4 linked regions of the Homo sapiens genome follow. The protein of the gene in region 1 purifies or fractionates together with the protein of each later gene. This does not show direct contact. Each region holds a gene or a part of one and is shown on either strand. Other genes may lie near its edges.

The links.
Region 2: the proteins of PCDHA4 (region 1) and CLSTN1 purify together in Homo sapiens (affinity purification with mass spectrometry; 2 studies listed by BioGRID and IntAct, with this or other methods). This does not show direct contact.
Region 3: the proteins of PCDHA4 (region 1) and CNNM1 purify together in Homo sapiens (affinity purification with mass spectrometry; 2 studies listed by BioGRID and IntAct, with this or other methods). This does not show direct contact.
Region 4: the proteins of PCDHA4 (region 1) and UFSP2 purify together in Homo sapiens (affinity purification with mass spectrometry; 2 studies listed by BioGRID and IntAct, with this or other methods). This does not show direct contact.

What each region holds. Positions count from the first base shown.
Region 1 is NC_000005.10:141,005,273-141,012,847, reverse strand, and holds the end of PCDHA4 (protocadherin alpha-4 isoform 1 precursor), read right to left. Parts: intron 3,222-7,575; coding exon 2,911-3,221; 3' UTR 501-2,910; downstream 1-500. Other genes in the region: PCDHAC2 (protocadherin alpha-C2 isoform 1 precursor), read right to left, coding at 2,911-3,221; PCDHAC1 (protocadherin alpha-C1 isoform 1 precursor), read right to left, coding at 2,911-3,221; PCDHA13 (protocadherin alpha-13 isoform 1 precursor), read right to left, coding at 2,911-3,221; PCDHA12 (protocadherin alpha-12 isoform 1 precursor), read right to left, coding at 2,911-3,221; PCDHA11 (protocadherin alpha-11 isoform 1 precursor), read right to left, coding at 2,911-3,221; PCDHA10 (protocadherin alpha-10 isoform 1 precursor), read right to left, coding at 2,911-3,221; PCDHA9 (protocadherin alpha-9 isoform 1 precursor), read right to left, coding at 2,911-3,221; PCDHA8 (protocadherin alpha-8 isoform 1 precursor), read right to left, coding at 2,911-3,221; PCDHA7 (protocadherin alpha-7 isoform 1 precursor), read right to left, coding at 2,911-3,221; PCDHA6 (protocadherin alpha-6 isoform 1 precursor), read right to left, coding at 2,911-3,221; and 4 more. UniProt on the Homo sapiens protein: Calcium-dependent cell-adhesion protein involved in cells self-recognition and non-self discrimination. Thereby, it is involved in the establishment and maintenance of specific neuronal connections in the brain.
Region 2 is NC_000001.11:9,750,343-9,758,137, reverse strand, and holds part of CLSTN1 (calsyntenin-1 isoform 1 precursor), read left to right. Parts: intron 1-1,627; coding exon 1,628-1,657; intron 1,658-2,828; coding exon 2,829-3,024; intron 3,025-6,456; coding exon 6,457-6,665; intron 6,666-7,795. UniProt on the Homo sapiens protein: Postsynaptic adhesion molecule that binds to presynaptic neurexins to mediate both excitatory and inhibitory synapse formation.
Region 3 is NC_000010.11:99,387,943-99,395,212, forward strand, and holds the end of CNNM1 (metal transporter CNNM1), read left to right. Parts: coding exon 1-61; intron 62-209; coding exon 210-359; intron 360-2,363; coding exon 2,364-2,465; intron 2,466-3,494; coding exon 3,495-3,574; 3' UTR 3,575-6,388; downstream 6,389-7,270. UniProt on the Homo sapiens protein: Probable metal transporter.
Region 4 is NC_000004.12:185,401,647-185,409,441, reverse strand, and holds part of UFSP2 (ufm1-specific protease 2), read left to right. Parts: exon of another isoform or gene 1-1,006; coding exon 1,007-1,171; intron 1,172-1,381; coding exon 1,382-1,506; intron 1,507-3,482; exon of another isoform or gene 3,483-3,585; coding exon 3,586-3,662; intron 3,663-5,823; coding exon 5,824-5,948; intron 5,949-7,795. UniProt on the Homo sapiens protein: Thiol-dependent isopeptidase that specifically cleaves UFM1, a ubiquitin-like modifier protein, from conjugated proteins, such as CD274/PD-L1, CYB5R3, DDRGK1, MRE11, RPL26/uL24, TRIP4 and RPL26/uL24.

The sequences.
Region 1 (7,575 bases):
ATAAAAGTTATTTCTTTTTGTACAGATGGGATCTCGCTATGCTGCCCAGGCTGATCTTGAACTCCTGGCCTCAAGCCATCCTCTGGCCTTGGCCTTCCAAAGTTCTGAGATTACAGGCAAGAGCCACTATCCCTGACCTAAAAGTTCATTTCTTTGGGGTGTCACTTGGCTTTCCAATTGTAGAGAGGTGCAAGGGCTAAACAAGTAATGAAAAAGATGCCTAGAAGGGCTCTTGTGATAAAAATGGGTTTGTTGCAATTCTTATTAGAGAAAACTGAAATAGTGTAACTACAAAGTGACGCAGCAACCTCCTGGCTGCCCATTCTAATGATATGAAGTTTGAATCTTGATTCCACTGGGGCTTTTGCCTTAGTAATGGACATAAAAGCTAACGTGATAAGAGAGTGTTACAGTGAGTTTCATACTGCAGCAATCTTCTTCAGTATTAATTGCTTATCAGTGTTCTATTTCCTCCTATTCTTAGAAATGACCACCATTTCTTTCATACCACCATTTTCATTTATTAGCAATAACAGAGGAAATACCAATAGCACCAATTCAAAATGAATCCACATGACGTGTTTTATCCTTACAGCTGTAATAACTAGTAACTAACATGGATTGGAAAGCACTTCGCAAATGTAAAAAGTGCTGTACAGATACATTATAATTATCATCATTAATAAATTAGCCCGATTCTCCTAGTTCAAAAGGCACGTAAGGTCAGATACATGGGCTTCAGTGGGGCAAAATGATCACAACCTACAATGTAGCAATGGTTCACATGTGTTGGTAACAAGTTTTACCCCATGCAATCCTGCAGAGCTGAAGTTACACACCCTTCAAAATATGGGAGAATGAAGCTAAAAGTAGACAAGACAGTTTTTTTTTAAATTTAATGCTTTTTTTAAATAACAGACTCCTACCTCTTTTATATTAATGCCTAAATAGATAATATAATTAATCAAACTTCTAAATTGTACATTATAACAAAATTAAAATGTCTTATTTAAGGTGACAGCAAATTTTGTTACTTTCTATGAGCTGATATTTCAGATACCATTAGAATTTCAAAGCATTCTGCAACTTCAAAGAGGTCAGATTGGTAAAATTTGTGCTTGCACACCCTCATGGAATATTGTCAGTATTCATTCCAAAATTGTTACTAGAACAAAACAGCTTTATCCATTCCCTTGCCAGCAGAAGTCTTGGCACGAGATGGCTCTTGGCTGGACCATAAATAAAATTCCTTGAATCACCAGTATCTTGATTTAAGAAAGAAATTTTACTGTGTCTTTCATACACAAAAGCTGATTAACAATGGTTAAAAAAACACTACTCCACTTTTTCACAGGTGTACAAAAGGAAATATAATGGAATTACATTCAACAATAAAGCTTAAAGTTCACTCTAGGTAATAGTTGCATTAACATTCACATACACAAGCACAGAGTAAGTATATTTCAGGAGTCTTAGCATAGCATACAGCATACATATGGGAGATTGATTTCAGGTAACATCATAGGTGTTAGTAAGATTAGCAATTCAGAGTGTTATAGAAAAGGAAAACTAAACCAAAGAGAAGGTGTAGGCTAGCACACCAAGACAAGTCACAGAATTAGTAGATTGAAAAATCTGCTCACTGTATGAGAAAACAATATTTTTCTTCAATTTTTGGGTCTTGATATATAGTTGGTTAGAGAAGGTTGTGTATCAAAGTGCACATAATTGTTTCTTAGAAAAGAGAGAGAGAGAGAGAAAGAGAGATCATTTTATTTAGTAATACATGCAAGAGGCAGCCCCAGAGTGACCTGAAAGAGTAAAGCTGTGATTGGCAGGTGGCCGATATAATACAGATGTTTCAGGCAATTCTCTTAAAGCACTTCTGTAGCAGCAATGATCATTTAAATGGCTGTAGACTGAATTCTCTTTTGAGGAGAGTTTAGGGGAATTGTATTCATATTTCTCTTTAAAGATTTATAGCTATAGACTTTCTCTTTTTTTAAATAAATCTATGAAACAACAAACAGCGAAAGGTGAGGTGTCGGGGTTTTCTTTTGCTTTTGCATAAGTATTGGAAAAGGATCTGGCCTTTTCATAAACATTGTGTGCAAAAGAATTTTTAATAAAGTGAGCACAGGACATGTATAGGAAACACATCAGATCTGCTTCTGTTTCCCAGGGTGGTTCTCTGTTAAAACACTGAACTGTTGGCTTGCAGGTATGATGCAGATTTTAGGTATAATGACGTCACAGCCAACAGACTTTAGGGTCTCCTAAAGCCTTGTCAGTGGGGGTAGTTTTGTCTCCTAGAGGGTGGCTGCCACCTCTTGAGTTGTAAGATTTAGAAAGTCTGGTCCCTTTAAGTTTACACTTCCCCTCCATACTGATAACTTCCGCTGTTTATTTGTCTTTGTTTTCTTGCCTTCCTTGTACCAATTAGTCTAAGCTGGCTCGTCTCAGCCAATATCTGGCACTCGCATACCCGCGGTAGCCACACATACCCAGTGGCCACAAACTCCCAAGCTGCTCAATCTCAAAACTTTTCAGCCTGCCCTGCAAGTGTCATCAAGACAGGATCCCCGGAGCACAGGGCAGAGAGTCCAACCTCTCACTGGCGGGGCTGGGAAGCCTCTCCTTTGCGGCGGAGGAGAAAGGAAACTTGGGTCTGCTTTTTAGGTTCTGAAAACAAGCCAGAGTGGAGAGAAAGAGTTAACACCAGACTTAGTAAAGCTTTTACGACAAAACCTGTTAAATGCGTTCTAGACAGACACAGGGAACTTTCTGCAGATTTCTGAGGTCTCTAAGAGGGCTCATGTAGATAGGAAAAAGGAGCAGGGAATTGCTACATGGGAGAGATTTGCCATTATTACAAAAACTGGCTAAGTGGCTTGTTTCCATTTGAGGACCTCACTGGTCACTGTTGTCAGTCGTGCTGTTCCCTTTCTCTTTTTTCTCCTGGGTCTTGTTACCCTTCTTCTTTTTCTTCTTTTTCTTGGTCTCCTCCTTTTTGCCGAAGGTTATGAAGTCACTTTTGTCAATTTGGCTGTTAGTAGGCTCCTGCCGGATGGAGATGATTGCAGGAGATCCTGGGATAATGAATTTGTCGGGCAACTCACCGGGACCGGATTGTTTGGGGTTGCCTGGTCCGTATTTAAAGGTCCAGCTGTTGCTGTTGACACCCGCACCGACTGGAGGGGACACTTCTCCTGCCTCTGGTTCTGAAAGACAAAACATTACAAATCATTAACAGGGTCAACACATGCTCTTGATGCCACACTGCTGGTAGAGTACAGGAGTACTGCATAGGCAGGCTGAACCTCCCCAGAAAAATCACGAGTTGTTTGTTCAAGTCTGAGGGCAAGGCAAGTGTTTACTTATTTATTTATTTGTTTAATTTTTTTGAGACAGGATTTCCCTCTGTCACCCAGGCTGAAATGCAGTCACTGCAGCCTCGACCTCCTGTGCTCAATCAATCCTCCCATCTTAGCCTCCCAAGTAGCTGGAACTACAGGCACAAGCTCCCATGCCAGGCTAGCTTTTTAAAAAAAATTTTATAGAAATGGGATCTCACTATGTTGCCCAGGCTGGTCTCAAACACTGAAGCTCAAGAGATCCTCCCACCTTGGCCTCCCAAAGTGTTGGAATCATAGACATGAGCTACCACACCCAGCCAAGGCCAGTATTTACAGACAAGCAAGAGGGCAGGTTTTTTCACCAGGATACCAAGAATCTAGTTTCATAGTAACATATGTTTGGTTCTTTGTGAAGAATTTCCTAAAGAATACAGTTGTGATTATCTTGACTGGGAACGGGATGGGAAATACAGAGCCTAAAGGCAAAATATGCTCCTTTTAGTGTCTAGATTAAACTTTGGCTATAAATGTATTAGGATGTCTATTTTGTCCAAAACAAGAAAAATTAGCTGAATAAATTATTTGATCTTAATTTTATTGTAATAACATTGAAGGGTGGTGGGATGCAGCATGGAAGAGATGGGAATACACAGCGTAAGAGGATGGAATCCTGTTGTAAATTGAGCCTATTTGTTTAGATAAAACACTGGGAGCCAATTTTACTTTCCAAGCCAAATTCCTTCCCTCAGTGTGCTCACAGTCTAGTTGGACATACACTCAAGCAACTAGAAACCAACTTAATACATGCAATAACTAAAGTATATGTAAAGTATTGTGGGACTCCAGAAGAAGAAATTGTTAATTATACTTGAGAAAGTTAATGGGGTTCCAGAGGAGGTGAAATCTGCCCTGAGTCTTGGGAAAATGATTATGCATCCACAGGAGTTTTCAATAAAAGACATTCCCAAGAGTCTGATTGGAAGACACACCATAAAGTATACCAGTGACTTCTAGAAGAGTAGAAGTCAGAGCTGGAGAGGAAGGGTAATGGTCTGTCTGGGCAAAGTGATCCCAGTGGCCATGACATTGGAACTCTGACATCATAGCAATGTTTATGTATCTAACACTGCTCCTTTGGTTGACACGTGAAAAGCTCCATCAAATAAACTGTTTATGTTCAATTACAGTTTAGGGTTGGGTACAACTGCTATTTCAATTTCCTATTACTTCTCAGTCTCCTCTAATTTGGTGTCCCTGAGCAGTAATTTTCTAACATAACTCATGTCAAGTTCATTATATTACTTCCACAATCAATGGTCACATTTTAGTCCTCATCTTATCAAACCTCTCAGCAGCATTTGTCATCCCCTTCTTGAAACACTTATTCTCATGAGTTCTTTGTCATGTAGAATAACCCCAATAAGTTCTTAGATGGACTGGACCCCTGTTACAAAAGGCAGATTAACAAGAAAAAAAAGGAAACAGAAGTTTATTAACATGTACATTTCATATATACATGACAGACACCCAGAGAATGAGCAGTTCTCAAAAAGGTGGCTTAGAATTCCAGCTTATATAGCATCTTCAACAAAGAACAATAAATTTTTAAAGAAGTGTAAGACAAAGGAAAAGACCTTTAAGGACTTTGAGTCTCTAATGGGTAGCTACTTGGGGGAAGGCAAATGAATGGCAGATAAAGGCTAATTTGTAAAGCAGTACCATTTCCAGGCCAATAAGAGTCCAAAGTTATCTTCAGTGGTTAACCTTTGTTCTCCCTGGTGGTGGGAGGCAGAGGAGGGAGGTGGAAGTAGGATAACTTTTGTCTTTGTAAATTTATGGTTTTTTAGGCAAATACAGGGAGGGCAGAAGACCTCTCCTATATCTGCTTCTTTTATTATTATCATGATTATTATTTTTTAAATTTGAGATAGAGCCTTGCTCTGTTGCCCAAGCTGGAGTGCAGTGGCGAGATATCAGCTCACTGCAGTCTCTGCCTCCTAGGTCCAAGTAATTCTCGTGCCTCAGCCTCCTGAGTAGCTGGGACTACAGGCACATGCCACCATGCCTGGCTAATTTTTTTTTTTTTTTTTTTTTTTGTATTTTAGTAGAGATGGTGTTCCATCATGTTGCCCAGGCTGGTCTCGAACTCCTGAGCTCAGGCAATCTGTCCACTTTAGCCTCCCAAAATGCTAAGATTACAGGCATGAGCCCACTGCACCCAGCCTGTATCTGCTTCTTTTAACTTGCCTTCAGCTCAACAATCCTTCTTATTTTGGGACAGCATATTCTGGCCCCCACCATCAAAACATTCTCCTGACCTTTCTCTCTGACTGTTCTTTGACAGTTTCCTTTGTCAGTCTCCTCATCTGTGTGTTGAAGCTTCCTTGGGTTTGGCCCTAGACTCTCTTCTCTATTTTCTCTTCACTCTCTCCTTTTGGGATCTCAGCCATATCCATAGATATAAATACCATATGAATAAGCTGATGAGATGCAGACTTATATTTTAAGCCCACATCTCTCTGTGCTCCAATCTCATGTATAACTGCCTATCTGGTATCCCCAGTTGGAAATCTCATGGGCATCCCAAACTGAAGAAATCTGAAATCAAACTCTTGATTCCTCGAATCTATTCCTTTCTAAATCTTTCCAGTTTCAGTAAATTACACCCCATTTACCCCATTTCTCAAGCCAGAAAGTTCAAAGCTAATTATTCATTTTTCTCTATTCTATTCTTCATTCTCCATTTATAATACATCATCAAGACCTGTCATTTCTGCCTCCTAAATATATCTTGACTCTGTCCTCTTCTCCCAATTTTCACTGCCACCACTCTTTCAGGACACCATCATCTCTTATATGAATTGCAGCAATAGTCTCCTTATTCAGTCTGCTTCCACTTTTGCTTCTCTCCAACCCTCCACACAGTAGCCAGAGTCATCTTTATTTCTTAATGTCTCTCTTTAAAAACTGATGTATAACAGCCAGGCGCGGTGGCTCACACATGTAATCCCAGCACTTTGGGAGGCCGAGACAGGCAGATCTCGAGGTCAGGAGATTGAGACCATCCTGGCTAACACAGTGAAACCGCGTCTCTACTAAAAAATAGAAAAAACTTAGCCGGGCGTGGTGGTGGGCGCCTATAGTCCCAGCTACTCAGGAGGCTGAGGCAGGAGAATGGCATGAACCCGGGAAGTGGAGCTTGCAGTGAGCTGAGATCGTGCCACTGCAGTCCAGCCTGGGCAACAGAGCAAGACTCCATCTAAAAATAAAAAATTTAAAAAAAAATGAGGCATAACATACATATAGCAAACTCTTTTAAAAATATAAATCAGATTATATCACTCCTCTGCTTAAGCTTTCTACTGCCTTGAGAAAAAAAAAAAAAACTCCTTACCATGATACATAAGTCCCTTCAATAATCTGATTTTTATTTCTTCTCCACTCTCATCTACAAATCTCCCTCTTACTATTATACTCCAACCATACAGGCCTTCTTTCAGATCCTCAAACACTCTTTGGAATTGTTTTTTTATTGTTGTTTGTTAGAGATAGGTTCTCACTCTGTCAACCAGGCTGAAGTGCAGTGGTGCAATCATTGCTTGATGTAACCTCAAACTCCTGGACTCAATCGACCCTCCTGTCTCAGCCTCCCAAGTGGCTGGGACTACAGGCCACCATACCTGGCTCCTTGGAGTTGTTTTTGCCTCAGGATCTTTACACATCTGGTTTGCTTTTGTCTTGAATGATTTCTCATCCATTCTTTTTTTTTTTTTTTTTTTTTTTTTTTTTTGAGACGGAGTTTCGCTCTGTCGCCCAGGCTGGAGTGCAGTGGCGCGATCTCGACTCACTGCAAGCTCCGCCTCCCGGGTTCACGCCATTCTCCTGCCTCAGCCTCCTGTGTAGCTGGGACTACAGGCACGCGCCACCATGCCCGGCTAATTTTTGTATTTTTAGTAGAGACGGGGTTTCACCGTGTTAGCCAGGATGGTCTCGATCTCCTGACCTCATGATCCGCCCGTCTCGGCCTCCCAAAGTGCTGGGATTACAGGCGTGAGCCTCTCATCCATTCTTAGCATGACTCCTCACTCTTCAAGTCTGTATTAAATGTAACCTCCTTGGAAAGGCATTCTATGACATTCCTAGCCAAGCAGCACCCCCTTGGCCTATTATTCTCTACCACTGTAAGATTCACAAAGGCAAAAAATGTATCTGTTTATTC
Region 2 (7,795 bases), on another chromosome or scaffold:
CCTGTAATCCCAGCTACTGAGGAAGCTGAGGCAGGAGAATCGCTTGAACCCGGGAGGCAGAGGTTGCAGTGAGCCGAGATCTTGTTACTCCATCCTGGGCAACAAGAGTGAAACTCCGTTCCCACCCCCCCCCAAAACAAACAAACAAAAAACTGCATGCCATGTGATACCATTTTTAAAACCTTAAAACCAAGCAAAATGAAACAACACTGTTCAGGGAGAATAAATGGTAGCACTATTAGCAAAGCAAGGGAATTCAGGTCGTGTTACCTTTGGGGGAGAGAAGGTGCCACCAGTGAGGGCCCAGTGTGTTGAGGGGCAGCGAAATTCCTGATCTCTTCACATTTCCACTCCTCCATAGTAAAGGGTTTATAAGCAGGATATATATTGACTTGGTAGAACAGAGCTTTCATGTAATGAGAACAGTGACTGTTGTAGCATCCCTACAGTTAGTTTTGAATCTGGTTTCTATTCACATTTAAGCAGATGTTCCATTAGCAGAGGGGTTTATATTTGTTGCCTTGGTTGGGTACTTTGGATTAGAAAAATATTGTCATTTTTTTCAGTTCAAGAACAAAGGGTTAAAACCTTTTGTTCGGCTGGGTGCGGTGGCTCACGCCTGTAATCCCAGCACTTTGGGAGGCCGAGGCGGGTGGATCATGAGGTCAGGAGATCGAGACCATCCTGGCTAACATGGTGAAACCCTGTCTCTACTAAAAATACAAAAAATTAACTGGGCGTGGTGGCGGGCGCCTGTAGTCCCAGCTACTCGGGAGGCTGAGGTAGGAGAATGGCGTGAACCAGGGAGGCGGAGCTTGCAGTGAGCCGAGATCACGCCACTGCACTCCAGTCTGGGCGACTGAGCAAGACTCCATCTCAAAAAAAAAAAAAAACCTTTTGCTCCAAATTTTTGTTTCATTAAATCTACTGATGAGTTGAATGTTACCAGAATCTAGCTGAGAGAATTTAGGTTGGAAATGAACATCTGAAAACTGCAAAATAACAAATAGATGTACTTATTCATGGTTTGTCACTAGAGTGTTCATTAAAAGAAAAATCCTGCCGGGCACGGGGGCTCACTCCTGTAATCCCAGCACTTTGGGAGGCCGAGGTGGGCGGATCACGAGGTCAGGAGATCGAGACCATCCTGGCTAACATGGTGATACCCTGTCTCTACTAAAAATACAAAAAATTATCCGGGCGTGGTGGCGGGCGCCTGTAGTCCCAGCTACTCGGGAGGCTGAGGCAGGAGAATGGTGAACCCAGGAGGCGGAGCTTGCAGTGAGCCGAGATAGCACCACTGCATTCCAGCCTGGGTGACAGAGCGAGACTCTGTCTCAAAAAAAAGAAAAATCCTAATGACCCCTGAGGGTGTTAGGACACTTCATGTAGGAGTATTTCATCCCTAAATTAATAACTTCAGAATTATGCAGTAGTTCATGGTAAGTTGGATTCAAAGTGACATTTTGTTCCTGAAGATTAGGTTTTGCTGTAGCAATCGTAGAAGCCGGTCGCTGAGCTTGGTGTGGAAATGTGTAATATGTGCACCTTTGACTTTTTTCCTTAGTGTATTCCATCTTCATTCTTTCCTGTATTACTGACATGGGCTTATCTTTTCTCCCTTTAGAGAGTTTTGAGGTGACAGTCACCAAAGAAGGTGATAAAGGGTTCTTTCTTCCCCTCTTATGAATATTAACCCACTAACTTTGTTTATAAAATTGGGAATCAGCCCTTAAACAGGAGAAACTGTCATGCTCTTTTATCCTTATTTATTCTCCTACTTTGTTTCTATTTTAAAGTATATTGATGGAAATTGTATGTAACCAGACCCTTGGTTAGAAATATCTGGAAATCAGACATCCATTTGAACTGTATGGATAACACTGTACATTTTTGTTTAATAGAACTTCAGAGATTTGCTTTATAACAATTTTCTATTAGTTGGAATTGTGGAAGGAGTGCAGTCTTATTTTCATGTGAAATACATTTTGTGGAGTTTCACATCGACATCAAAACATTTATACTGTTCTCCCATGGACAAGAATGGAAACATAGATTTTTAACTCCTAATTAAGTTGTGAGCCAATTTAGATGTAGAGAAGTTCCCAGGCTGGTGTCTTTTTCAGGTTTGATAGGATAAAGTCCGAAACAAAGGCAAGTCTAGCCAGTCCCTCCCATAATAGAAACTGTGTCTGAATCGTAGATGATAAAATAGCTGTTGAAATGGATGCCTGACGAGTCGGTATTTCTACCTTTCTCATTGAGTAGTTTGTTTTGATTCCCTAATTTTAGCCAGGCTCATTGCACAGGAAGACTTGTTTCCTTTGATTTTTTTTTTTGACAGAATTTCTGTAATTACGGTGCTGATCCTATATCTCACGCTTCCTCCTCTCTCAACACATAACTGCGTTTTAGCTTCTCTCTGGTCCAAATCAAACTGGCTGCCAGCCCTCCCAGGAGCTGGGGCAGCGCTGGTGTTCTCAGGCCTGGCTGTGTGCTAATGAGACTCCTTTTACCCTCGAGCTATCTAAGTGCTCCTGTGGAATGCCTGTCTATATTTTCTTCTCTCTCTCTTTTGTATTCCTGCATGAATGGATGCAAAGTAAACAAGTTGCTTGGAAAGCCAGAATCTGCTTCATCTTACTAAAGCCCGAGAACTTCCCCATGTTTAAAACACAGTGCCCCTGCTTTGTCCACGGACCCTCCAAACCCCTGGCTGCCAAATTGTTGTCATTTATTTTCTTTGGGGGTGGAGATGGGGGGAGGAGGGCAAGGTGCAGAAGATCTATGTGGTAGGAATTCTTACCTGTTCTGCTTTGACTCCCTAGGTGAGATTTGTGGATTTAAAATTCACGGGCAGAATGTCCCCTTTGATGCAGTGGTAGTGGATAAATCCACTGGTGAGGGAGTCATTCGCTCCAAAGAGAAACTGGACTGTGAGCTGCAGAAAGACTATTCATTCACCATCCAGGCCTATGATTGTGGGAAGGGACCTGATGGCACCAACGTGAAAAAGTCTCATAAGTAAGTAAGCTGGACAAAGAGTGAACATAACCCACCGAGTAAACGTGTGTGCGCAGAACGAAAATAGTAGTGACTATTGCCTGCTCCCCAAGACTGTTTTTGAAATAGGCAGAAGATAGTTCTCAAGTGTCTACAATTAGATTGTAAACACTTGGAGGGCAGGAATCATGTCTCTCTACCCTTGTATACAGTTTCTAGCAAGAGCCTTGCTCACATTAGGCATATTAGGTTTTTTGGGGTTGTTTTTGTTTGTTTTTTGAGATGGAGTTTTGCTCTTGTTGCCCAGGCTGGAGTGCAATGGCATGATCTTGGCTCGCCGCAACCTCCGCCTCCTGGGTTCAAGCGATTCTCCTGCCTCAACCTCCCACATAGCTGGGATTACAGGCATGCGCCACCACGCTCAGCTAATTTTGTATTTTTAGTAGAGATGGGGATTCTCCATGTTGGTCAGGCTGGTCTCAAACTCCCGACCTCAGGTGATCCGCCTGCCTGGGCCTCCTAAAGTGCTGGGATTATAGGCGTGAGCCGTACCTGGCCTTTTTGTGTTTTGTTTTTGAGATGGAGTTTCGCTGTTTCACCCAAGCTGGAGTGTAGTGGCACGATCTTGGCTCATTGGAACCTCCGCCTTCCGGTTTCAAGTGATTTTTCTGCCTCAGCCTCCCGAGTAGCTGGGATTACAGGTGCCTGCCACCACGCCTGGCTAATTTTTGTATTTTTAGTAGAGACGGGTTTCACCATGTTGGCCAGGCTGGTATCAAACTCCTGACCCCATCATTCACCTGCCTCGGCCTCCCAAAGTGCTAGGATTACAGGCGTGAGCCACCACACCCGGCCTAGGTTTTTAATAAATGAATGAGTGAATAATTTTATCACACCAAATACTCTATTAAAGAAGTAAAGGCCCTACATTAAAAATTGAAAAAGTCTGCTTCTCCCTTAGGAAGGTTATTTTGTTGTCATATTTATCTTTTGCTGTAATTCCTAAGGGCATAAACTTAATCATTGTTGGCCAGGTGCAGTGGCTCACACCTATAATCCCAGCACTTTGGGAGGCTGAGGTGGGAAGATTGCTTGAGCCTAGGAGTTTGAGAGCAGCCTAGACAATGTAGGAGATGCCATCTCTACAAAACATAAACAGCCAGGTATGGTGGCACATGCCTGTGGTCTCAGCTACTTGGGAGGCTAAGGCGGGAGGATTGCTTGAGCCCGAGAGGTTGAGGCTGCAGTGAGCCATGATTGTGCCACTGTACTCCAGTCTGAGTGTCAGAATGAGACCCTGTCCCTAAAAAACAATAACAACAAAAATTGGCCAGGCACGGTGGCTCACGCCTGTAATCCCAGCACTTTGGGAGGCCGAGGCAGGCAGATCACCTGAGGTGATTTTCACCTGAGGTCAGGAGTTCATGACCAGCCTGGCCAACATGGAGAAACCCTGTCTCTACTAAAAATACAAAATTAACCAGGCATGGTGGCACGCGCCTGTAGTCCCTGCTTCTCGGGAGGCTGAGGCAGGAGAATCACTTGAACCTGGGAGGTGGAGGTTGCACTGAGCCAAGATCACATCATTGCACTCCAGCCTGGGCAAAAAGAATGAAACTCCGTCTCAAAAAAAAAAAAAAATTAGTCACTGCTGGTGGAAGTAGGCTGGCTCGCTGCCACAATCCTGAGTGTGTTGCTGCACCTCCTGCCAGTTAGGAACTGCAGTTGTAGCAGAGAGGGCTTTGGACAAGACAACATAGAACAGGGGTCGCCATACCTCAGGACGTGGGCCAGTACTGGTCCGTGGCCTGTTAGGAACCAGGCCACACAGCAGGAGGTCAACAGCATGTGAGCGAGTGAGCATTTCTGCCCGAGCTCCACCTCCTGTCACATCAGCAGCGGTATCAGATTCTCACAGGAGCGCGAACCCTGTTGTGAACTGAGCATGCCAGGGATCTAGGTTGTGCGCTCCTTATGAGAATCGACTGCCTGATGATCTGAGGTGGGGCATTTTCATCCCAAAACCATCCTCCCACCCCCATCTGTGGAGAAATTGCCTTCCATGAAATCAGTCCTTGGTGCCAAAAAGGCTGGGGACTGCTGGTGTTCTCAAGTCCAGTGTCTTCTACAATTAGATTGTAAGCTCTAGTCTTTTCTAGAGCTCTAGTCTTTTCTCCACCACTTGCTAGCCCTTTGGCATTGTGCAAATTTAATTTTGTTGAGTCTGTTTCTTTTTCTTTTGTTTTATTTATTTATTTATTTACTTATTTTTTGAGGCAGAGTCTCGCTCTGTCACCCAGGCTGGAGTGCGGTGGCACAATCTCGGCTCACTGCAACCTCCACCTCCAGGGTTCAAGCGATTCTCGTGCCTCAGCCTCCCAAGCAGCTGGGATTACAGGCACGCTCCACCACACCTGGCTAATTTTTGTATTTTTGGTAGAGACGGAGTTTCACCATGTTGGCCAGGATGGTCTTTAACTCTGACCTCTGGTGACCCTCCTGCCTCAGCCTCCCAAAGTGCTGGGATAGGTGTGAGCCACCACACCCGGCCCTGAGTCTCAGTTTCTACTTAGCACATCTACTAAAGAAGGGTATGTGGGCGAGATGGTGTCACATAACCCATTGTGAGGGTCAGACCGATGGCACTGGGATGAGGAGGCTCATGGTGAGCAGAAGGTGCAGTGCCCCAGTGAGTCTCTTCTCTTTTTCCACAGTGTAATGTTATTGTTTCCCTTGAAAAGGTCAGATTTTGACCAAAGTCCTTGACTGATTCAGAAGCATGCCCTGACCATTAGCCCTTGAAACCTACAGTTTTTTTTATTTGTAGCCAGGTCTGATGACACCCTAATTTTCTTGATAACTGAGCTGGGGTATTGGCAGGTGGCAACGGCCTGCCTCTCCTGAACTCTTCCATTTGTTGAATCAGGACCAGGTGATGCCATGGACTCCAGCCTATTCCCTAGAAGTAGGACAGAATTCGTTTGAACTCTCAGAATCAAACCATTTCATGCTTTCTCTGTTTCATACCCCTTCTTCCCTTGGCTCTATTTTTTTTCTGGATTTTGCTACAAAATATGTTTCAACTTTATAATTGGAGAGCAAACAGACGTCTGGTATTGTTTATCTCCCTTCTGCCTGTCTTGTCCCATATTGTCAAAAAAAAACACCCAAGTCTCTTTTATTTTAGATGATTGGTTTTTTGCTTTATTCTTAGGATATGGAAGAATCGACCCAAATCCCTCTTTTAACTTTCTGTTATCTCCACACTTGAATGAAAAGCAGTGAATAGCTTGTTTAATTTTTGACTTCATCATATGAATTTCATGAAACAAGGTATCAGAAACAGGAAATTTTAAAGTAGGGCAGAATTGGGTAAACACACATACACACTCTCTGTCTCTCTCTCACACTGAAAACAAGCAGAAAAATATTTTTCTCCCTCCCTTTGTCCAGAGCAACTGTTCATATTCAGGTGAACGACGTGAATGAGTACGCGCCCGTGTTCAAGGAGAAGTCCTACAAAGCCACGGTCATCGAGGGGAAGCAGTACGACAGCATTTTGAGGGTGGAGGCCGTGGATGCCGACTGCTCCCCTCAGTTCAGCCAGATTTGCAGCTACGAAATCATCACTCCAGACGTGCCCTTTACTGTTGACAAAGATGGTAAGAATCGAGGAGCCGGCTTTTCAGCTAGGTAGACAGTCCCTGCTAACCCCACTGACTTTACACCCCAGCTTCTGTGCTTCGTCAGAACTTCATGGAACTCACAAGTTGGAGACCTAACCTGGTGTGTGTTTGCTTTTAATTGTAAAAACATTTAAGTTTCTACTTTGTTCCCTGACAACTTCTTCTCTGGAACCTGTAAGTCCTGTGTTCTCTTGTGGGGCTCACCTCTTTTTTGCTTTCCCACCAAAATCAAATAAAAATCCTCCTACCTGACATGGCTTTGTTTTTTTAATCTTCTTAACTTTCAGTCCACATGCATCTGAATGAGACTGACCTTTACATTTAGTTTGTCTCATTTTCTGTTCTCCATTAAGTTTTTTGTTTTTGTTTTTGTGGTTTTTTTTTGAGACAGTTTCTCACTCTGTTCCCCAGGCTGGAGTACAGTGGTGCGATCTCAGCTCACTGCAACCTCTGCCTCCCGGGTTCAAGTGATTCTCCTACCTTAGCCTCTCGAGTAGCTGGGATTACAGGTGCCCACCACCACGCCCAGCTAATTTTTTGTTGTTGTTGTTTGTATTTTTAGTAGAGATAGGGTTTCACCATGTTGGCCAGACTGGTCTTGAACTCCTGACCTCAGGTGATCCGCCCACCTTGGCCTCCCAAAGTGCTGGGATTACATGTGTGAGCCACCGCGCCTGGCCATGTTCTCCATTAAGTTAGAATCTCCTGTGACATCTTTTTTTTTTTTTTTTTTGTTTGAGGGAAGGTCTTGCTCTGTCGCCCAGGCTGGAATGTAGTGGTGCAGTCACTGCTCACTGTAACCTCGAACTCCTGGGCTCACGGGATCCTCCCGCCACAGCCTCGCTAGTAGCTGGGACTGCAGGCACACACCTGTAGTCCCAGCTATTTGGGAGGCTGAAGTGGGAGAATCGCTTGAACCCAGGAGGCAGAGGTTGCAGTGAGCCGAGATCAGGCCACTGCACTCCAGCCTGGGCAAGAGAACGAGACCCTGTTCCAAAAAGAAAAAAAAAGATAATACAGTGTTTCCATTGTTAATCAATGCACGGTCTAGAATCTTTGATGGAATTATGGACATTGCAAACACTTTCCAGAGATCTATACTCACC
Region 3 (7,270 bases), on another chromosome or scaffold:
CCCCAGACCCCTAAGGATGACCCCGCCATCACGCTCCTCAACAACAGGAACAGCCTGCCGTGTAAGTCAGCTGGGCAGACGGGCAGGCTGGGCTGGTGTGGGGTGAGGATGACCCTGCCTTCCTCTTCTAGCCCTTCCCAGGGCTCACACCACCTGAGCCCTGGGTCTTCTCCAAAGCAGAGAGGTGATGCACTCACTGTCCTCCCCAGGCAGCCGCTCAGACGGGCTGAGAAGCCCCAGCGAGGTAGTGTACCTGAGGATGGAGGAGCTGGCCTTCACCCAGGAAGAAATGACTGACTTCGAGGAGCACAGCACACAGCAGCTCACGCTGTCTCCTGCAGCCGTTCCCACGAGAGCAGGTCAGGGAGGCCAGCTGGGCCCAGTGCAGCAAGGGAGATCATTGCCTTTGGGCACTGGGATGGCCCAGGGAAAGCTGGCTGAGGGGAGCCCTGGGACCGCAGCCCGTGCGTTAAACCTCCGACCTCCTTACACAGCCAGGGAAAGGAAACATTTACTGAGCATCTACCATGCATCAGGCCCTGTCTGATTCATTCTCCTAGGAAAACTGTGTAGGGCAGTATTAGGAGTTGGGTTTCTGCCTGGATTCAGACCCTGGCTCCTTCGTTTAGGAGTTATGCAATTTTAGGCAAGTTATTGAACCTAAGACTCAGTTTTTTTTATCTGAATGGATAAGTATCCTTATGTTAATAGGTATAAATTATGACAGCTATCTTATAAAGTAGCTTTGAGTATAAATGAGATAACATACATAAAAGGCATATTACAGTGTTCAGTACCATGCTTTATAAATGTTACATAGCTATTATTAGGCCTACCTTACAGATTAGGAAACTGATGTCAGCCATCATTCTAACTAGCTGTGGTTTTGACCAAAGGTGTAGCCTATAAGACTTTTCCTGAGGTCTAAGACCATATCACCTCCCTCTGAGACACTGAACACTTCTGCCTTGACAGTGGTGTTGCTCTGAGCTCCCAGGGTCCCAGCAGTCTTGAGAAGCTTCTGTGTTTGCCTCACTAAGATGTATTCCCCAAGCTTTCAGTAGCCCCCTATGCCTGCACCCAAGCCAGCAGTTCCCCCACCCGACCTGTCAGACCTACTTCAGTCCATAGTATAAGACCTCTCAAGTCCAGAGCAACAACCTGAAAAAGTGCTCCAAGATTTTTAAAGTTGGCCGGGCACGGTGGCTCATGCCTGTAATCCCAGCACTTTGGGAGGCCCAGGCAGGCGGATCACCTAAGGCTAGGGGTTCGAGACCAGTCTGACCAACATGGTGAAACCCTGTCTCTACTAAAAAAAACAAAAATTAGCCGGGTGTGGTGGTGGGTGCCTGTAATCCCAGCTACTCGGAAGGCTGAGGCAGGAGAATCGCTTGAACCTGGGAAGCTGAGGTTGCAGTGAGGCGAGATGGCGCCATTGCACTCTAGCCTGGGTGACAGAGTGAGATTCCATCTCAAAAAAAAAAAAAAAAAAAAAAATTTAAAGTCAACAAGACAATATGTTTGAACTTGTGGCTGACCCAGAAAATCTGGGACATACATAGTCACTGTTCCAGGACCTGAATTTAGAACTGATGTTCCTTTTCTGCCCCCAACACCAAATCTAGTAGCTAAAGCACATAGCAAGAAAATGTAACAAAGGAATAAGAATGAAGGCGATGGAGTGGTCTTGGAGATCATCTAGTCCACCCTCGTCCTGTGACATTTGAGGACCCTGGAGGCCTAGAGAAGGGAAATAACTTGCTCAAGTCCAAAAACTGCATCAGAAGCAGGCTCAGCCTCATGGCTTCAGTGCAGTGCCATTTCCAACACACCGCTCTGCCTTAGGTTTTTATTTGCATTGGTGGTAAGGCTTGGCCCCTTCTGGGCTCTCAGATTCTGTAACTCTTTGAATTCCCATTGAGTCCTGCGGGAGAAGACAGGGGCATTGTTGTTGAACCCTGTGGCTTTCCAGGGTTTGTGCAAATATACCAAGGAGACCTCCACCTATCCTCACGTGTGCTTTTAGTCTGGCAAATAGACTGGGTGGAGAACACATTGTTCTCTAAACCCTCTCTCTTGCCAAACAGTGTTTGAGAAGAGGGAATGATTTCTGACTTTGCATGGATCGTTGGATTCCGGCTCCTGTTCTCCATCTTTTTGTTCCTTTTGTGGCACTAAAATGCCTCTTGCTAACTAATGACACCCTGTACTTCCCTGGGCGTCCCTGCCTTGTTACACCACCCTCACCTTGGCTCACGTCTTAAACTTCACTTGCTGAGGGATGTCATCACTCAGAATCACCCTCTCTTGATGCCTGAGTGTGTAGGTTGAGACAACTTGAGTTCTCTCCTTTCCTTTCTCAGCATCAGATAGTGAATGTTGTAACATCAACCTGGATACAGAGACCAGCCCCTGCAGTAGCGATTTTGAGGAAAACGTGGGCAAGAAGCTGCTGAGAACCTTGAGTGAGTAGCTAGTTCTTCACCCAAATGAGAGCCACCCTGCTGATGGTTAGTAGGAAAAGCATGTTAGCATCTTCCTCTTGGGGGAGGAGCCATGGACTCCTCTTAGAAACCCTAATGAGGTACAATTGTGGAAATCCGCAGAAGGGGTTGGGCCAGCACTGCACCCTTGATAGTTTTGGGATCTGTCCCATTCAGTTGTTTGTCCTCTAGGACAGAAGTCTGCACACCATGCCCACAGGTCAATTCTGACCTCCCTCCTTTACTTGTTTTTGTAAGTAAGGACTTATTGGATCACAGACAGATCCATTTGTTATCTATGGCAACAATGTCAGAGTCGAGTAATTGTGACAGAGACCATATGGCCCACAGGCCTCTAATATTTTCTGTCTAGTCCTTTAAAGAATTGGTGTCCAGGAGACTCAATAGAAAGAGAGCAATCTCCTCCACAGATGGAAGTCAATGGTGGAGAGAACAAGGTGAAGATATTCCTTCCTAAAAACAGACCTGGGAACAGATTGCTCTCTCATCCTTGAGGACAACTATGTAATTATGCCCACCTGCCCCACTGCAGAAGGGAGGTTGCTTCAGAGCTAGAGAACGCAGGTCCCTGGAAATGGCTTGCAGCTACAGCCACCAACCCTGATTCATGGGACATCAAAGTCTATGAGATTGGTCCTCTCTGAGGGTGTCTGGCAGTCAGAGGGGCTGGCCCCCAAGGGGCGCAGGAGGCATGGGCCTGAGGTGTTACATGGGCTTTACTCAGTCCCCTCCAGGAAGTCTCAATTCCAGGCACCAGCCTGGGTTTGTGACTTTTCAGAGATGGCATCTTATGTGGAAAGTACGTCCTAATCTTTCAAGATGTAAATATGCCAATATCAGCACCAGCATACAATGCCGGTTAGTTCTAACCAAGCTGTCAAGGGCTTTGTCTCCATTTCTGCTTCTGTTTTGAAAAGAACTCAGACTGCCAAGCAATTATGAATGTTCCTCCAGTGTTACAGGCTGATACTTGCAACTTGTTTTTTTCAGGTGGCCAAAAAAGGAAGAGGTCACCAGAAGGAGAGAGAACCTCTGAGGACAACTCCAATTTAACACCTCTGATCACATGACAGGGCAAAGCCAGCATTCACTGGGTGTGTGAAATTCCAGAGCTTTGGGGGAGAATCCACCCTCCCATCATCTGCTTCCCCCAAGGCCTCCCACAGGTGACAGAATGTTCTGCCTTCCCTTCCATCTCTTCACCCCTAGCTGTCAGTTTGGCAGATTTTCCCTCGTTACCTCCAGTTCGACTCAGAACCTTGACATGGCCATAACAGAAGGAGGTGCCTCTGATAGAACATGCTAGAAATGGTCTTTTCCACAGCATAGTCTGGGACTGGAAAAGAGATGTCTGACTGCAAGCTGACAATGCCACTCTGGGACCCCTGATGCTCTTCTTTGTTCTTTGGGTCCCCTGATGCCATAGGAGACCTATCGTCTTGGAACTTGCCATTCTTTCCTCCAGAACAAAATGTTAACTTTCTAACACATTTCATGCATAGCTTGGCTCAGAAGGTGCCATTGGCAGACAGGCACATGGGAGGCTGGAGTAGGAGGTCTGAAGATTAGTTCAGGGGATGGACCAAGAATTTCCCCCAGAGCTTTAAAGAAGTGGGACTCAGCCATGTTGGCGCGTGATTGACATTACAGCACAGAAAACTGTTAGTGACTGGTTTCCTGTTAGATAAGGGTTCCAGCAGCCTGGGGCAGTATGTCTCAGCTGGAATGGAAAGAATGTGAGATGGAACCTCAAGTCACTGTTTTTACCAGGGACACATCTGTTTTGGCTCCCAATCAGCAGTCTTCAATCGATCAATAATTCTGCTCTGGAAGAGAAGGAACAGGGAGCAGAGAGACCCAACTGGGAGCCAGAGATGGAACTTCAGGTCTTAAGTGCAAATCAAAGCAAAAAACAAACAAAACTTACATGGAAAAACTGTAAGTGCTGAAAGCAAGTTTAGCCATGACAAACCAAAGAGTGCCCAGGTCAGCCAAGAAAGATACATAATCTCATGGGACTTCAGTGGGAGTTACACAGGAATGTTGAAGAATCATTCTTCTTTTTCATGCATTTGTCCTTCTCCCACCCCCTTACTACACCCTAGCAGATCAGCTGAGTGTACTTTATTCCAAGAACTTACTGGATCTCTGGTTTTTCTCCTGAAGTTGGGGCAGGTGCAATTCCAAGCATAACCACCAGATGGCAGAGTGACCGCGCATACCTGCTTCCAAGAATAAAACAGTTCTGAAAAGCAACCGCAAAGCCGGGCGCGGTGGCTCACACCTGTAATCCCAACAGTTTGGAAGACCGAGGCGGGTGGATCACTTGAAGTCAGGAGTTTGAGACCAGCCTGGCCAACATGGTGAAACCCCATCTCTCCTGGGCATGTAGTCCCAGCTACTCGGGAGGCTGAGGCAGGAGAATCGCTTGAACCTGGGAGGCAGAGGTTGCAGTGAGCTGAGATCACACCACTGCACTTCATCCTAGGCAACAGAGCGAGACTCTGTCTCCCCCCGCAAAAAAAAAAAAGAAAGAAAGAAAGAGAAAAGAAAAGAAAAGCAACCACAGCCAGCCTTAGGGAAAACTTGGAAGTAAGTGAAATTTGTCTTCAGAATAACTATCTCCCTTTCTGATCTGTCTCCTACTCTTTAGATGTTCTCAGTCAAGTACTCACTGAACTCATTGATCGAGTGCTGTCTGCTAAATCTCCAAACCATTCCCAAACCTTTCCCCGTAGTATACCATCCAGCTTCCCTCCCCTTCCTCCAAAACCCTCCCTCCCACCTCCCCACACCCATTGAGTCATTCACAGGCAGGAGGGAGACTGATCATTCCTCTGGGTTATCTGCATCTCAAAAGAAAATGCTTACCCACAGGAACTGTTAACTCAGGGGTTCTTAACTTGGGGTCCATCACCCCAGGGGGTCCATAGTTGGACTTCAGAGGGTCTATGAAACCCCTAAAACTGTCAGTATTTAATGTATTTATTCTTGTATGTTTTTTCCAGAGCATTAAAGCTTTCATAAGGTTCTCAAAGGTCTCAGACCTACAAAGAGTTAAAACAAACAGACAAACAAAAAAAAACACTACTATTTTAAATAGTGGAACTTTCAGCCCAGCGTTTCTGCAATGCAGAGTGAAGTGGATACTGGGCAGTTCGAGACAGGTTTTTAATCATAAGTGGTCTTTTCAAATGTCCATCAATTGATGGGGAAGGCTGGCACCCACCAAGAAGTGGAAGTCCTCAGAAATTCTCGGCACACCCTAGAGTATTGTACAACCAACACCCCCACATAACTTTGTCCCCTCTTCCCCAACAACCCAGAGCAGGTGTTGCAGACAGGAGGGCCACAGCGTGTGGAAGTAAAGACTTTGGAGCTAGAGAAGCCTTTTCCAGCAATGATTATTGACTTCACCACACCCCTTGCCTGGCCTGGCCTGAGGCTCAGCAGTGCATGACTTCTCGTAGATAACTTCACAGTCATCCAGTCCCAACACCTGCTCTTGCCTGGTAGGAACAGGCGAAGTGTCAGCCCTCAATGTTGGGTACTTAGACCCAAACCAATAAATGGTGAGTTTTGAACAAGAACTACCATCATGCAGGCTTCTTGCCCAGCTGACCACTGGCCCCGGGGTGCCTGCCTGGCTGGTCTTCATCACCTGAGGCCACCAGGCTCAAGCCACTGCTGTTGCATTACACCCATCCCTTTGCAAAATCCCTATGGAGCCTGTCACCACTCCCCTCCCTATATACCCCCACCCCACAAAGATTTTCTTCAGGTTAAAAAAAAAGTTTAAAAAAAAGATTTTAAAATAAAGCATTTATGAAGGCTTAATAAATTGTAAATAATTTTTAAATAAAATGAAAATGCCTTTCCTGGAATGTGGCTGTTTTCCTTGCCCCTGGAATCTTCTGACGTGGCTTCATTTGAGATGCAGGTTGAGTGATGCCCACGTGTGATGATCTCACCTGTGCACCACCTGCCTGAAGAGGCATGCCGCTCCGGGCCAGGTGTGAGGCTGCGGTGAGGTCACGGGGAAGCCTTGGCACACTACTTTGGGAGGCCAGATGGTAAGATTTTGCAGGAGTGAATGCCAGAAATGAGAAGTAAAACCCAAATGAGAAGCCAGTATGCATAAAGACGAGGAAGGAACTAAGACGACAGTGAGAAGGGCTGGCATTTGCTGAACCCATGTGATGGGTGAGGTGCTGTGCTGGGTGCCGTCCAAATTCAGGGTCTTGGGGGCTAAACCCAGACAAGCCCCTGAGACAGAATGTTGGTCACACTAGCTCGCTTCTGCAGAACCTTCAGAAAGGAGTCCAAGTGGCATGACTCTGGCAGTTTGCAACCAAAGGCTAGGGAACGGAACACAAGAATGGGCCAGGCCTGTTGGTCAGTTTTAAGCCGATGCTGGAGGGAGGGAACAGCCAGGCAGGTGGGAAGATGTGTTTGGGCATATAATACCTGTGTGGAAGGAAGGCTGAAATCTGACACCTACTACTCATTTCTCAAAGCAAACAGGAGGATCAGGGGCCTATGCCAAAACCTCTTAAGATTCTTCTCAGGAACCTCAGTAGAGGCTATTCATTTCACTAACGGTAATAATAAATAATGGAAACAACTATTTTGCCAAGGGCTTTATGTTCCAAGTATTCTGTTAAGTACCCATTAGCTCATTTCTTTCTCAACCACCCTGTGGAGGAGGGGTTACTGTCTGCAAGGTTACTGTCTTCTTGCTCACGGTTACACACCTGGGAACTGGC
Region 4 (7,795 bases), on another chromosome or scaffold:
GAGGCAGGAGGATCACTTGAGCCTAGAAGTTCAAGACCAACCTGAGCAACATAGTGTGACCCAATCTCAAAAAAATAAAAACAAAAACCCAGTTCTTTAATAAAAAAAGACATATACATTCTTAGCACTATAAGTAAGAATTTATATGATATTAGTAATTTATTTATCTTTATTTTTTGACCCTTAACTTAGCGTCATCAAATAACATACTTGGGCTGTAATCATAGCAGGTTTATAAATTTAGACACATTCTTCCTGTGTCCCATGATATGGACCCTTCATTTGTTTGTTCATTCCTTTATTCCTTCCTTCATTCATTCAGCATTTATTCAGCAGCATTTATATTAACCGTGTGCCAGGCGTGTTGTAGAAGCTTGGGCCCAAAAATGGATAAGACACAGTGTATGTACTCACTGAGCTCACATATTAGTGTAAGTAGGCAGATATTTTTTAAATGATAAGTAATGTATCATTTAAAGTATATCAAGTCATGATATACTTTGAAAAATAAAAACATAAAGAGGACAGAGATGACAGGTGAGGCAGGGGGTGGGGTAGTGAGAGAATGAGTGGGCCGTTTGTAGACTGGATGGTCAAGGAAGACCTTTGACATCTAAATGGAAACCTGAGTGAAGTAAGAGTGCAAGCTGTACAATTAATTTGGGAAAAGAGAGTTCCAGGCCAAGAGAACCATGAGGCTCCAAGGTCATATTGCCCCTGGTATATGGGAACCGAAAGTAGAGGGAGCAATAGGGAAAAGTTTAGGAGATGAAATTGGAGAGGAGGCCAGAAGGTAGGTCCTGCTGGGCCCTGTGGTAAGGACTTTGAACCTCAAATAAAAAGCCAAGAAGGTATAATGTTAAACCATAGATCTGTGAAGGCATTTTTATAAGGAACTAAAGTAACAGTCTAACTCTAAGAACATTAAACATAATTCGGGAGCATATATAGAATATGTACTTCTATCCTAAGTTAATATTTTACTGTGTTTCTTCTCTGTATATAGATTTATGTGGTCCAGGGCATATATGGCTATCATCATTATATGCAGGATCGCATAGATGACAATGGCTGGGGCTGTGCTTATCGATCTCTGCAGACTATCTGCTCTTGGTTCAAACATCAGGGATACACAGAGAGGTCCATTCCAACACACAGAGAAATTCAGCAGGTACAGAACATACCGTTTTAAATTATAATCAACTGTATGTTTCATTAGCCCTTAATATACCATTGATAATTTTTGTTACCTCATGGTGCAGACTTATTTCTGTTTTGAAGAAAAAAAAATTCTTGTACTGGTAATCAGGGAAAATGCCCTAAACATCGTTTTTAATAGCTGTCTTGTGTATGGATGTTTTATATTTTTAAATACATCAAGGCTCTAGTCGATGCCGGGGACAAACCAGCAACATTTGTCGGATCGCGGCAATGGATTGGATCTATTGAGGTGCAGCTGGTACTAAACCAATTGATCGGTATAACGTCAAAAATCCTGTTTGTCAGGTAAGCACACTTTAAGAAATTAGATAAATCATTTCAAAGTGACAGTCTGTCATTTTAATTAAAATAATAGAAAAAATGGTATCTTCCCTTATTTCTTTTTATTCCTTTTCCTTCTTCCTTATTACTCATTGCTTTATAAATCTCATTTTTTAATCTTAATTTTTTTTCATTTTTTTTTGGAAGGCTCTGATTTTATGAATAAACTTTGTGATGTAATGTATACTTGTATTATTTAGGCCTAATTTTAGCCTAGAAGAGGAAAACTTAAAAATATATTAACGTTGAGTAAAGTCATAAAAATTATATTAACAGTTTCTTTATGCTCCAATCTTTTAAAAAGTCTTAAAAGGCAAAACTCAAATGTTGAACTATGACTGACCTTTTTGTTTACCTCCTGCTCTTTTTCTTTCTAAAACGTTAATAATCTAGTAATGTGTTCAAATAATGTATTCATTTTGTCTTTTCCAATGATCTTAACCATAATTCTAATATTAAAATGAGAAAATATAAATTAATTATTTTCTATGACCATAACTAGCTGACTCCTGATTGTATGAGCTTATGTTTTAAAATACATTTTCTAGCCAGGTGCAGTGGCTCACGCCTGTAATCGTAGCACTTTGGGAGGCCGAGGTGGGTGGATCCCCTGAGGTCAGGAGTTTGAGACCAGCCTGGCCAGCAGAGCAAAACCCTGTCTCTACTAAAAATACAAAAAAAATTAGCTGGGTATGGTGGCGCATGCCTGTAATCCCAGCTACTTGGGAGGCTGAGGCAGGAGAATCGCTTGAACCCAGGAGGTGGAGGTTGCAGTGAGCCAAGATCATGCCACTGCACTCCAGCACAGGCAACAAAGCGAGACTCCCTTTCAAAAAAAAAAAACAGAAAAATACATTTTCTAAAAAAAAAAAAAAAAAAAAAGAAAAGCCAAAAAACAAATAAAATACATTTTCTATTGTTAATTACAGTAACATCGTCCTCATTGTATCTTTTATGTGTTAAAGATGTAATTTTATCCTTTCCTCAGTGGTTATGGAAATCAGTGGTAAAAAAATGACAGACTGGCTGGGCACAGTGGCTCACGCCTGTAATCCCAGCACTTTGGGAGGCCAAGGTGGGTGGATCACCTGAGGTTGGCAGTTTGACACCAGCCTGGCCAACATGGTGAAACCCTGTCTCTACTAAAAATATAAAAATGAGCCGGGCATGGTGGCACACGTCTGTAATCCCAGCTACTCAGGAGGCTGAGGAAGGAGAATCGCTTGAACCTGAGAGGCGGAGGTTGCAGTGAGCTGAGATCGCGCCACTCCACTCCAGCCTGGGCAACAGAGCGAGCCTCCATCTCAAAAAATAATAATAATATAAAACAATGACAGACTTAAGTAGTGAAGAACTTTTTTTAAAAGTTACAGTTTTGGTACATTAAAACATACGTTCCTCATTAAGCAAGAGCTAAGGTTTAGCACCACCGGGCACCTTCCCCCAAAAAATACCTCCCTTCATTATCCCATCTATCTTTCTCTTTTCAAAAGTAAAAATTCTGAGATTCCCTAAAAATAGTATGTTGCACTTGAAAACATTTTGCAGTTTTCACATTGATTTCACAGACATGTATTTTAGGCCTAGACTCTCCTCTGTTATGTAGACAGGTCAGCGTTTTGGGTCCCAATTTAAAGATGAGGAAATACAGACTAAGAAGTCTACCAGCAAGAAGGCAAGAACCCAGGACTTAACACTCATTCTTCTGATTAATCCATCCATAAGAACTCCCTGAGCACCAAGGTGATGTTTTAACTTCATGTTAAAAACCCAGGCCTCCTTTATACAGTTCAAGAAGCAGAAAATCAAGGTCTTTTAGCGTCTTATCTAGCACACTTGGTGGCCTTAAGTATTTTGAGTTTATGTTGCTTTAAATTGCACAGTTTAATTGCTCTCAGTTCCCTAACACTTAATTTTTTTACATTTATATATTTTTTCAGTAACACCCGAAAAAACAAGAAAGTAGGAAACATTGTCTCCTAGCTCATTATTTGACCGTAGTGTTGGAAGTAGTTCATCTGATAGAAAATGGTTTCTTTCTAGCCAAGGTTCAGAAATTGCCTCTCAAGGACGGGAACTGGCTAATCATTTCCAAAGTGAAGGAACTCCAGTTATGATCGGTAAGCTGTTTCAGACACTGTTTTTGGTAGAGTGAGTAATATGCAAAACTTATCATTGATATAAATATTTAATGTTGCATAAAATCAGTCATTTAAAAAATTTTGAAATTAACTTTTACACCATATGTATGGATCTCTGGATATTGAAAAAAATTTCTAAGGTGGCTTAAAGGTTACAAAAAAGATTATAATAACCAGAAGAAGTAAAGGCTGAGAAATGGTAGCTATGTTCAAACATTTAAAGAGCTGAGAACAGTATTAAAAAGAGGAAACGGTCACTCAGCTGAGCTTCGTAAGTCATGACTCTGTCATAACTGGGCTGGCTTTGTGAGATTTTGCAATTACTTACCTCTGTGGATTTTATTTGTAAAATAAGAAGATTGGATTAGCTGATCTAAAGATGCTTAATTCTTTGAAGAACAAGACCTGTCCTGTGATGACAGAAGGCAAGGTGAGACTAGTGTGTAAGAAATGGAGGTAGAAGCTGGGCATAGTGGCTCACACCTGTAATCCTAGCACTTCGGGAGGCTGAGGCAGGAGGATAGCTTGCATCCAGGAATTCAAGACCAGCATGGGCCAGACCGCGTCTCTACCAAAAAAAAAAAAACACACAAATTAGCTGGCATGGTAGTGTGAGCCTATAGTGCCAGCTATTCAGGAGACTGAGGTGGGAGGATTGCTTGAGCCCAGGAGGCTGCAGTGAGCCAAGAGATCCACTGCTCTCCAGCCTGGGTTACAAAAGTGAGACACTGTCTCAAAAGAAAAAAAAAAAAAAAAGAAATGGAGGTAGGCTGATGTCAGCAAAATATCAGAAAGAACTTAATGAGTAGGCCGGGCCCAGTAGCTCACGCCTGACTCCTGATTGTATGAGCTTATGTTTTAAAATACATTTTCTAGCCAGGCACAGTGGCTCATGCCTGTAATCCAGCACTTTGGGAGGCTGAGGCGGGCGGATCACTTGAGGCCAAGAGTTCGAGACCAGCCTGGCCAACATGGCAAAACACTGTCTCTACTAAAAATACAAAATTTAGCTGGGTGTGGTGGCACACACCTGTAATCCCAACTACTTGGGATGCTGAAACAGGAGAATCGCTTGAGCTGTGAGGTGGAGGTTGCAGTGAGCCGGGATTGCCCACTGTACTCCAGCCTGGGTAGCAGAGCAAGACTCTGTCTCAAAAAAAAAGACTGGGCACAGTGGCTCACGCCTGTAATCCCAGCACTTTGGGAGGCCAAGGTGGGTCGATCACGAGGTCAGGAGATCGAGACCATCCTGGCTAACAGTGAAACCCCGTCTCTACTAAAAAAAAATACAAAAAATTCGCTGGGTGTGCTGGTGTGCGCCTGTAGTCTCAGCTACTCAGGAGGCTGAGGCAGGAGAATTGCTTGAACCTGGAAGGCAGAGGTTGCAGTGAGCCGAGGTCACGCTATCGCACTCCAGCCTGGGTGACGTGAGACTCTAGCTCAAAAAAAAAAAAAAAAAAAAAAACTTAATGAATGGAGTGCTATATCACTGGAGGTACTCAGAGGCAGCAGGACCATCTGCTGAGAGAGGCACTACAGCAGATTGTTACTCTGTTGGGAGGAGTTTATGGCCCTTTCTAAATCCATTTTAGGTAATTATATGGATGTGAATGTAGAATATAAATTGTATGTGATTATAGATATGATTGTATCTTTTGTGTTAAAGATGTAATTTTATCCTTTCAGAGTATATCTGACATTGTGTCTTTTATAGTGTAGGGTAGTCCATTTTAATGCTATTTTAGATCAGTTAATAAGCAAAGTAATGTTGTTTTTTTTTGTTTTTTTTTTTGAGAGTCTTGCTGTGTCGCCCAGGCTGGAGTGCGGTGGCATGATCTCGGCTCAGTGCAAGCTCCGTCTCCCAGGTTCATGCCATTCTCCTGCCTCAGCAGGAGCTGGGACTACAGGCGCCTGCCACCAAGCCCAGCTATTTTTTTTGTATTTTTTTAGTAGAGACAGGGTTTCACTGCATTAGCCAGGATGGTCTCCATCTCCTGACCTCGTGATCCACCCACCTCCCAAAGTGCTGGGATTACAGGTGTGAGCCACCACGCCCGGCCGTAATCTGTCTATTTAAATTGAATAGGCATTTGACATTTGTTTATGCCTTCATTCGTATTTCCTATTTTTTCTTCTATAGGGGGAGGAGTTTTGGCCCACACAATACTAGGAGTTGCATGGAATGAGATTACAGGGCAGATAAAGTTTCTGATTCTAGATCCACATTATACCGGTGCTGAAGACCTGCAAGTTATTTTGGAAAAGGTAAGTATCCATTTAACACAAATTGAGACAAAAGGCAAAGAAGCTAGAAATGAAGGATCACAAACTGGCTGGTAACAGAAAGACAATAAGCTGAGGGCAGAGATCTCCCTGTGTGGAGGCCTTCTGAGGCTGTTGTAAGTAGCCGTCTCTGTATAGGGAATGTGCAAGAACAAAGCACATTGCAAAAGACAAAATTTAGGTTTATAGAAACTTTCTCAGCTATTAAAATTAATAATAGGACACACACTCATAAATATATTCCTTTGGAGATTTTAGAGCTTTCATAAACAAATGTATCAAAGTTTATCAATGTCTTAAAATAGATGAGCAGAATATATAAACTTTTAAAATTTTAGAATTAACCAAAAGATAGCTAAGCAGTATGCTAGACATTATGGAGGCTTGACTAATTTTAATTCATTTACATATAACCTAATCTCATTCTATAAAGGGTTTGAAGTTGATACATATTTAAGAGTATTCTTACTTACAATAGCAGATAAAGGAGGTAAAAATTTGTTAATTCATAGGCAACTAATTCTCACATATGAAAACTCAGTACCAAGTCTTTAGGAGAAAGTATTGTAAAACATAATTAACTTGAATTTTAAGTAACATTTATATTCGCTGCCAAATACATTGAAATTGCAGAGAATACATAACCACCTTTTAAACTATAAACTAAAGATAAAATGTTTTAATATGTTAAAGAGTTTTAAGCCAGGCGTGGTGGCTCACACCTGTAATCCCAGCACTTTGGGAGGCTGAGGTGGGCAGATCACCTGAGATCAGGAATTCGAGACCAGCCTGGCCAACATGGTGAAACCCCATCTCTACTAAAAATGCAAAAATAAGCCAGGTGTGGTGGTGGGCGCCTATAATCTTGGCTATTTGGGAGGCTGAGGCAGGGGAATCACTTGAACCCGGGAGGCAGAGGTTGCAGTGAGCTGAGATGGCGCCATTGCACCCCAGCCTGGGCAACAGGAGTGAAATTCCAGCTCAAAAAAAAGTTTTTAATGTGTGTAGTCCAACTCTGTTATATCCTCAGTTTACTGAAGTCTTTTGTTTATGATAAGGGTATAAACACTAATAGGATAGAAATGTGTTGTTACAGTTTTAAGTGTTTTTTTTTCCTTTTCTCTTTCACAGCATTTGGAATTTGAAGTCTATAAAAGGTTTTTTGACTGGTGCATGTATCTTACTGAATATAGTAGCAATATTCTTGTTCTGTAGCAAGGTGTTCATTCCATTCAGTATTTATTAAAGTACCTAACAAGTGCCAGGCACTGTCCTAAGCACTAGTATTACACGAGGTTTTTCGGGAGCTAAAACCTTTAGGGTAGGACAGAGAAGGAGAGTGCAAAAAGGACTCTCGAGAAAAAAAAAATGGTATCTCAGGTGCTTCTACGAGGCTGGTGCTGTGGTGGCCCCTGCCTTGTAGAAACAGTGAAAGCCGCACTGCAGGTAGATCAGTGCGTCCAGAGCTAGGCGAAGAGGTGAGGCTGGAAGGACACACCAAGCTCAGTCAGAAAGGGTGGTCTTTGTGAACCAGGCATTTCGATTTTTTCTTAAAGGCAGGGAGAAGCCTTAATTATTTTCATCATCAAATTTCTCTTTTCTGGTTGACTCAAGGGGCTCTGCACTACATGGCATTATCTAGGTAAGGTTTCTGAACAATTAGAGTAAGGGATTGTCCCTGATTTCTTTCTCTGAGAATTGCAATCTCCATCTTTGCTAGTTCTATTTCTATAGAACTTTTCAACAGCAGAAACCTCCTTGCTCTATTTGTATACACAAGAAACTGTGCAGCCAAGGTCCTGCCATTAAAACTATTGATTCACTTGACT